Homo sapiens: one gene and its partner. The protein of the gene in region 1 interacts with the protein of each later gene in a biochemical or structural test. Each region holds a gene or a part of one and is shown on either strand. Other genes may lie near its edges.

What was found. Proteins that work in one complex are often made in the same cells at the same time.
Region 2: the proteins of STX10 (region 1) and VPS51 interact in a biophysical measurement, tested with the Homo sapiens proteins (one study listed by IntAct).

Annotation. Positions count from the first base shown.
Region 1 is NC_000019.10:13,148,367-13,152,112, forward strand, and holds the start of STX10 (syntaxin-10), read right to left. Parts: upstream 2,010-3,746; 5' UTR 1,808-2,009; coding exon 1,773-1,807; intron 1,532-1,772; coding exon 1,362-1,531; intron 1,228-1,361; coding exon 1,133-1,227; intron 726-1,132; coding exon 663-725; intron 1-662. UniProt on the Homo sapiens protein: SNARE involved in vesicular transport from the late endosomes to the trans-Golgi network.
Region 2 is NC_000011.10:65,094,135-65,097,880, forward strand, and holds the start of VPS51 (vacuolar protein sorting-associated protein 51 homolog), read left to right. Parts: upstream 1-2,079; 5' UTR 2,080-2,116; coding exon 2,117-2,344; intron 2,345-2,863; coding exon 2,864-2,993; intron 2,994-3,746. UniProt on the Homo sapiens protein: Acts as a component of the GARP complex that is involved in retrograde transport from early and late endosomes to the trans-Golgi network (TGN).

The sequences.
Region 1 (3,746 bases):
GTGGCGTATGCCTATAATCCCAGCTACTCGGGAGGCTGAGGCAGGAGAATTGTTTGAACCCAGGAGGCGGAGATTGCGGTGAGCCGAGATTGCACCATTGCACTCCAGCCTGGGCAACAAGAGTGAAACTCCATCTCAAAAAAAAAAAAAAAAAAATACAGAAGTTACCCTGGCATGGTGACGAGCACCTGTAATCCCAGCTACTTGGGAGGCTGAGGCAGGAGAATCGCTTGAACCCAGGAGGCAGAGGTTGCAGTGAGCTGAGATCAAGCCACTGCACTCCAGCCTGGGCAACAGAACAAGACTCTGTCTCAAAGAAAAAAAAAAGAGTAAAAGGCAGGCATGCGTCCTGGAAACAGGTGCACACAGGACAAATGGCATGGAAGCAGAAAGGAGATAGGTACACAGGCCCCCAGCCCTCTCCTGCAACAGGAAACCAGTATAGACCCAGAGGACACAGTAGAGAGGAACCCACGGACATATACACATAGAGAGGTTCAGGTGCACACACCGAGAAAGTGCAGGCAGGTAGACAGCAAGAAGATAACTGCCCACAGAGAGGACGGGCACTGTCGCAAAAGGGACAGGTGAACACGCACAGAGGGATCTGGCTTGGTTACCCCCAGGGGCTCAGGTGGGCAGGGTGGGTCAGGAAGGCTTACCTCTCTGTTATTCCTCTCCAAAAATGCTACGGCTGTTGGGCTGACCATATGGTCCTTCATTTCCTGGAGGTAAGGACAGCATTAGGGAGGAAAGACACTCAGGCTGGGCGCGGTGGCTCACGCCTGTAATCCTAGCACTTTGAGAGACCAAGCCGGGTGGATCACCTGAGGTCAGGAGTTCGAGACCAGCCTGATCAACATGGTGAAACCCCGTCTCTACTAAAAACACAAAACTTAGCCGGGTATCGTGGCAGGCACCTGTAGTCCCAGCTACTCAGGAGACTGAGACACAAGAATCGCTTGAGCCTGGGAGGCGGAGGTTGCAGTGAGCCGAGATTGCAACACTGTACTCCAGCCTGGGCGACAGAGCGAGGCTCTGTCTCAAAAAAAAAAAAAAAAAAGAAAGAAAGAAAGAAAAAAAAACACACTCAAACCTTCCCCCACTCCCCGCCTGCAGGACCTTTCCTGACCTGGACTGCCTCTCGCATCCGCTCCACGAACACCTTTCTCTCCTGCAGGTCCCCGGCTGGGAGCTTGAACTTGCCTGGGTTGGCTTCCACTATACGTGGGCTGAGAGTCAAGGGTCAAGGCCGGAGCCAGATATCATCCCCGTCCCTAGGGGTCCAGCCCTACCCGAAGGTGGGCTGCCACCGCAATGGGCTCTCCCATGCCACCCTCTGCCACAAAGCCCCAGGATATCGATGGTCTCTTCCAGGTCCTCGAGGTCCCACTCGATGCTGCGCAGGCCATTCCGCAGCTCATTGGTCGTCCAGTCCAGCTCCTCGCGTCCGACCGCCGCGCTTTCCTGCAGGAGCTCGCACCAGCGCTGGTACAGCCCGCGGGCCGTGTTCACCGCCTTCTGCACCTCGCTGCGGGCAGGGGCACGGCGGGCGCGGCTGGGGGCAGGCGGTCCTCCCGCCTGCCTCTGCCCCCGACTGCAAACCCAAACGCATGGGGGACTCCGGAGACCCCTATATACCCCTGCGTGCGCCTCCCACTCTGCACCCCGACGGCCTTGCCCAGCCCGCCGGGCACGCTGGGGCCGGCACCCGGGCACTGGCTGGCTTGGGTACAGAGCACCCTCCGCCCTCCCCCGTCGTTGTCACTCACCCTCGGACTACAAAAAAGGGGTCTTCGAGAGACATGTCAGTCCCTTCCCCCCCAGGCCGAACCCCCCTCCCGGCCTGGGTTCGCGGGCTGGTTCCCTCCCAACCGAGGAGAACGCGCCGCCACCCCCGCCCCCGTCACGCCACCATCGAGAGCCGGACCGCCAGGGGAGAAAGAGAAGCCTCGGAGGCCCGACGTGCGGACACTTCCGCCCTCTCCTCAGCCATCTTGGTTGTGGGCAGAGGCAGCTTCCGGTGCACATGCCCCCGCCCCTTAGCCCTCTCGTGCCGCACCGTAGGGGGCGGTGTCGGAGTTCTGTCTGGGCCTATTCGGGTCCGAGTTCGGAATTTCGGTTCAAGGCCCAGTTCCTCGGATTGTTCCTGCGCAACTTCAGTTTCCCTTCCAGGCACGGGCAATGTAAATAATGATAGCCTCCCTCATCTCTGGCGGCTGGGTATTATGGCTGGGGAAGGGGCTCATTCGATTCGTTGAAGCTTTTCATGGACTCCCTGAGCTGGCACCTGGGAGATCGTCCCATCCCAGGGTCCCGAGTGTCAGGTTTGGCTAGGGTCTGGGGGAGAGGTGGTCCTCCCTTCTCCCTGCGGGGGCGCGGTGAGGAGCGGGCCTGCTCCTCCGGGGAGTTCTGCCGCATTCTCCCAATCTCTTTCCTGAGAAGTGGCGGAGTTGGGGGCACTTCGAGGTCGCCTTGGGGCGAGGTGGTCGTGAGGGGGTCCCAGATATGCCAGCAGCGGGGGGAGGTCACCTTTGAGAAAGTGCGTGGAGGTGGGTTTCTTCAGAAGCGCGGAGTCTTTCTGGGTGCGAGCCTGGGGGTAGCGGGTGGTGGCTTTGAGGATGGTCTCCAGGGGGGCCCTCTGTGTGTGGGGTCTCCGTCTGGGTAGGGGCCAGGAATATCAGCGGAGGGACTCAGGGTCGTCCCTATGTGTGACAGTGGCGCTGTGTGTTGGGGAGCTTCGGGAAAGCACTTTTTTTGAGTGATAGGGGGCCTGGTCTCCCCTGGAGGGTGGGCGGGTTATCTGAGGGAGTCCTCGGAGGGTCGCCCCCTTGCGCGTCAGAGTTGCTGCGTGGGGTCTCAGAGATAGCGCCTGGGCTGGGGAAATCATTGTGGGGTCTCCGTGGTAAGGTTAGCGGGGTGGGGACGGCCTGCGTCTTCGGCAGGTCGTCGCAGTCTGGCACCATCGTTGAATGGGGACGAGTTTGGGAAGGGTATTTTAGGGGGGAATAACTTTTGAGTTCCCAGCGTGCGGGGGAAGGGCGGGACGGGAGGGTGTCCCAAGGCCTGAGAAGATCAGTGTGGGGCAGGGGTCAGGAATAACCTGGGAGGGGGCCTTGTATGGGGGAAATAATTGGGAAGAGGAGAGATGGGATGAAGGGGGCCTCAGCGGGTCGTCTCCTGTGTATGCAGGGTCGTTCTGCAGCGTCTCTGGGAGATGGCGTCCCTGGGAGCCCTCAGGTCGCCCCTACCCGCTGCGGGGTGCTTTCCTGGCGTCACGCCTTCCTGGCCCCTGGAGGGAAGGAAGTGAAACTCTCCTCTTCCCCCACCCGGCTGGAATGCGAGTCAGGAAGCCTGGGGCTCCAGCCTGCTCCGGCTGCCCGGGTCGGGGATGGGGAGGGGCGTGGCCGGAGCGCAAAGCCCCGCCCCTCCGCGCCCCCCCCCCGGAAGCCCCGCCGCCGGCCGCTAAGGCGATCACGGGCCCTGTCCTAATATGGGCAACCGGAAGCGGCCCGCGCGACTGCCCTACGTCACTCCGTCCAAATTTAGTTGTGGAAGTCAGCGGGCGCTGGTGGCGGGAAGGCGCCGCGAGCCAGTGCGGGCGGAAAGGGGGCGGGGGGCGCACCACCCCTTAAAGGGCCCGCACCAGGAATGAATGGAGCCATTCGAACAATTCTGCATCCTATTTTTGGAGGAAGTGGAATTAGTATTTCTTGGAGAGACGGCGCGTAGCGGAGGGTAGGGCG
Region 2 (3,746 bases), on another chromosome or scaffold:
TTTTGTATTTTTAGTAGAGATGGGGTTTCACCATGTTAGCCAGGCTGGTCTCGAACTCCTGACCTCGGGTAATCTGCCTGCTTTGGCCTCCCAAAGTGCTGGGATTACAGGCATGAGCCACCGTGCCTAGCCTCAACTAAGCAGCCATAGATCATATGTTAAAAAATGGGCGTGACTGTGTTCCAATAAGAGTTACGGAAAATGGGATATGAATTGCATATGATTTTCAGGTGTCATGAAATGTTATTTTTTTCCCAACCATTTACAAATGAGAAAACCATTCTAGCTCACAGACCATATGAAAACAGGTGGTGAGCTGTGTTTGGCCTGCAGGATCCCTGGCAAAGAACAAGTAAACCAGTGAGTTTTTCCATTCCAACCTTCCTCCAACAGCCCTTCATAAGTAATGTTTCAAGGGCCACTTTGATGAAGAAAGTCTTTTTCTCTTTTTCCTCCATTCCAACTCTGTGTCCTAATCTGAACTCCAGATCGTTCCCTGTCTTCATGAGCTCTTCACCTTTGTGCACAGCTGCACTTTTGTCCAAGTCAGAACCCTGGGAGAGCAGCTCAGGAGGCTGAGGTGGGAGGGGAGGTCAAGGTTGGAGTGAGCCAAAGATAGCACCACTGCACTCCAGCCTGGATGAAGAGCAAAACCCAGTCTCAAAAAAAAAGGAAAAGAGAACCCTGAGAGTTATCCTCCACATTTCCACCTAACCCTTCACTCAGCACATTCCATCAGTCACTTAAGCTCTGCTGAGTCTGTCCTTTTTTTTTCAATAATAGGGGGCGGGTCTCACTACGTTGTCCAGGCCAGTATTGACCTCCTGGGCTCAATCAATTCTCCCACCTCTGCCTTCCAAAGTGCTGGGATTACAGGCGTGAGCCACTGTGCCCGGCCTTAGGGGTTCTTAAATGTGAGTGTGTATCAGAACTACTTGGGAACTTTCTAAAAAGAAGCTAGATCTGAGAGAATCCCAGAGTCTTTTTTTTTTTTTCTTGCTTTGTTGCCCAGGCTGGAGTGCAGTGGCACCATCGCAGCTCAAGCAGTTCCCCCACCTCAGCCTCCCGAGTAGCTGGGACCACAGGCGTGCGCCATCATCCTGGCTAATTTTTGTTTTGTTTTTTTTGAGACAGAGTCTCGCTCTGTCATCCAGGCTGGAGTGCAGTGGCGAGATCTAGGCTCACTGCAACCTCTGCCTACCGGGTTCAAGCGATTCTTCTGCCTCAGTCTCCGAGTAGCTGGGACTACAGGCGCGCGCTACCACACCCGGCTAATTTTTGTATTTTTAGTAGAGACGGGTGTTTCACCATATTGGCCAGGCTGGTCTCCAACTCCTGACCTTGTGATCCGCGCCCCCACCCCCCCGGCCTCCCTAAGTGCTGGGATTACAGGCGTGTGCCACCGCGCCTGGCCTGTATTTTTTTTTTATAGAGACGGAGTTTCGCCATTTTGCCCAGGCTGGTCTCGAACTCCTGGGCTCAAGCGATCCACCCGCCTCGACCTCCCCAGTGCTGGGATTACGGGAGTGCCCGGCGCAGCTCAGCGCAGAGACTTACAATGCGCCACAGATAGTCCTGAAGGCAATTCTGATGCACGTCAGAGGACCAGGCCCTAAGAAGAACTGCGCTAGAGGCGTGGTACAGAATAGTGTACATGCATTTAATCCTCGTAGCCCCCCTGTGAAGTATGTACCCCAATTTTAGGAATGGGATAAACTGAGCCACTGCCAGTGGCAGGATCCCAGGAACACTCTACTCTGGCCTCACGTCCCGCATCCGTCCATTGCATCTGGGCACATATTCCGTGGGCCCCTTGCCTGCGAGAGTGCAGGTTGGGGAGCCACTACCCGTCCCCCTTCTGGGACAGCAGCAACCCCAGGCAGTTCCACAAAATGCTTCCACCCAGGAAACTGGGGGAATTCAGGGCTCTCCCGGAACCTTTGCACCCGGGGAAGACAGGTGCGGGGGAACTCTAGTCTCGAAGGACCTAGGGCTGCAGGGGGACGTTTCACCTGAAGGACTGCCTCGTTTCAACAACAACTTTATGGCTCCCGGAAGTGCCTCCTCCCCGTCCCCTTCCTTTCCAGCCTCACGCCCGTGGGCTGCAGTTGGAACGATGGCGGCGGCAGCTGCCGCCGGGCCTAGCCCGGGGTCTGGACCTGGGGACTCCCCAGAAGGGCCCGAGGGGGAGGCTCCGGAGCGTCGGCGGAAGGCGCACGGGATGCTGAAGCTTTACTACGGCCTCTCGGAAGGGGAGGCGGCGGGACGCCCCGCGGGGCCCGACCCCCTGGACCCGACTGATCTGAACGGGGCGCACTTCGACCCGGAAGTTTACCTAGACAAGGTGTGTGCGCACGGGGAGTGGGGGGGTGCGGGGAGGGGGGAAGGGAACCAGGCCCCTGCTATATTGCTCCCCCAGATCATGCCTCCGACTTTTTGTGAGGTTCAGGAGAGCAGGTGTTCATAAGAGGACGAACCTCGGCCAGGGAGTACGAGCAGCTGAGGCGTCTGAGGGGATGTGAGTAGGACTGGACTGGCCTGAGGTGATGCGGCATCTGAGGTCTTCTGGGCTGATGTGATAGGCCCGGAATTGGGGGCGTGGCCCAAGCGTTGACAGGCGCGGGGCTGGGCTTAGGCCGAGCCCCAGGATTTCAAATGCTGACAAACACCAAACACGGTTGAACCTAGTAACCCCTGAGCTAGGCCACTTAGGGCCCCCTGCCTGGGATTCCTGACAGCCGGCGGGGGTTTGCGGGGTGGGTGGGGATCAGAGATTTCTTGCCCTGAAAGCCTATCAGCTGCAGGCAAGGCTGGGGGACATGAATGCCTCCTGACCCGAACACTAACCACCCAACTTCTTCAGCTGCGTAGAGAGTGCCCTCTGGCCCAGTTGATGGACAGTGAGACGGACATGGTGCGGCAGATCCGGGCTCTAGACAGCGACATGCAGACCCTGGTCTATGAGAACTACAACAAGTTCATCTCAGCCACAGGTGATCCCCACGGGGACACACCCTCCAAAGTCTCACAGCCCCCATTCTCCCACCTGTGTTGGGAAAACCAGCAAGGGATTTAGAGGGGGGAGACTCAGATTCCAGTCTTGTCCTGACATTATTCCATTCTCACCTCCTTTCCTTTGAGCCTTCGTTGTCAGACTACTATAGAGATAATAGCTACTCTCAGAGGGTTGTCTTAAGTACCAAAGGAGAGAAAAGACAAAAGGAGATTAGTTGTTTATTTTTTAGAGACAATGTCTTGTTCTGTCTCCCAGGCTGGAGGGCAGTAGCATGATCATGGCTCACTGCAGCCTCGACATCCCAGGCTCATGTGATCCTTCTGGATCCTACCAAAGCACTGGGATTACGGGTGTGAGTCCCTGGCCCAGCCCAAAATGAAATTTTAAAATGAAATGTATTTATCTGAAGCACTTAAAAGGCCAGGCATGGTGGCTCATGCCTGTAATCCCAGCACTTTGGGAGGCTGAAGTGGGAGGATCACTTGAGCCTAAGAGTTTAAGATTGACCTGGGAAATATAGTGGGACTCCATCTCTACAAAAAAATAAAAAATAAAAATTAGCTGGACAAGATGGCGTATGCCTGTAGTCCCAGCTACTCAGGAGACTGAGGAGGGAGGATCACATGAGCCTGGGAGGTCGAGGCTGCAGTGAGCTGTGCTTGTACCACTTCACTTCAACTTGGGCAACAGAGCAAGACCCTGTCTCAAAAAAAAGAAAGTATCTATCTGA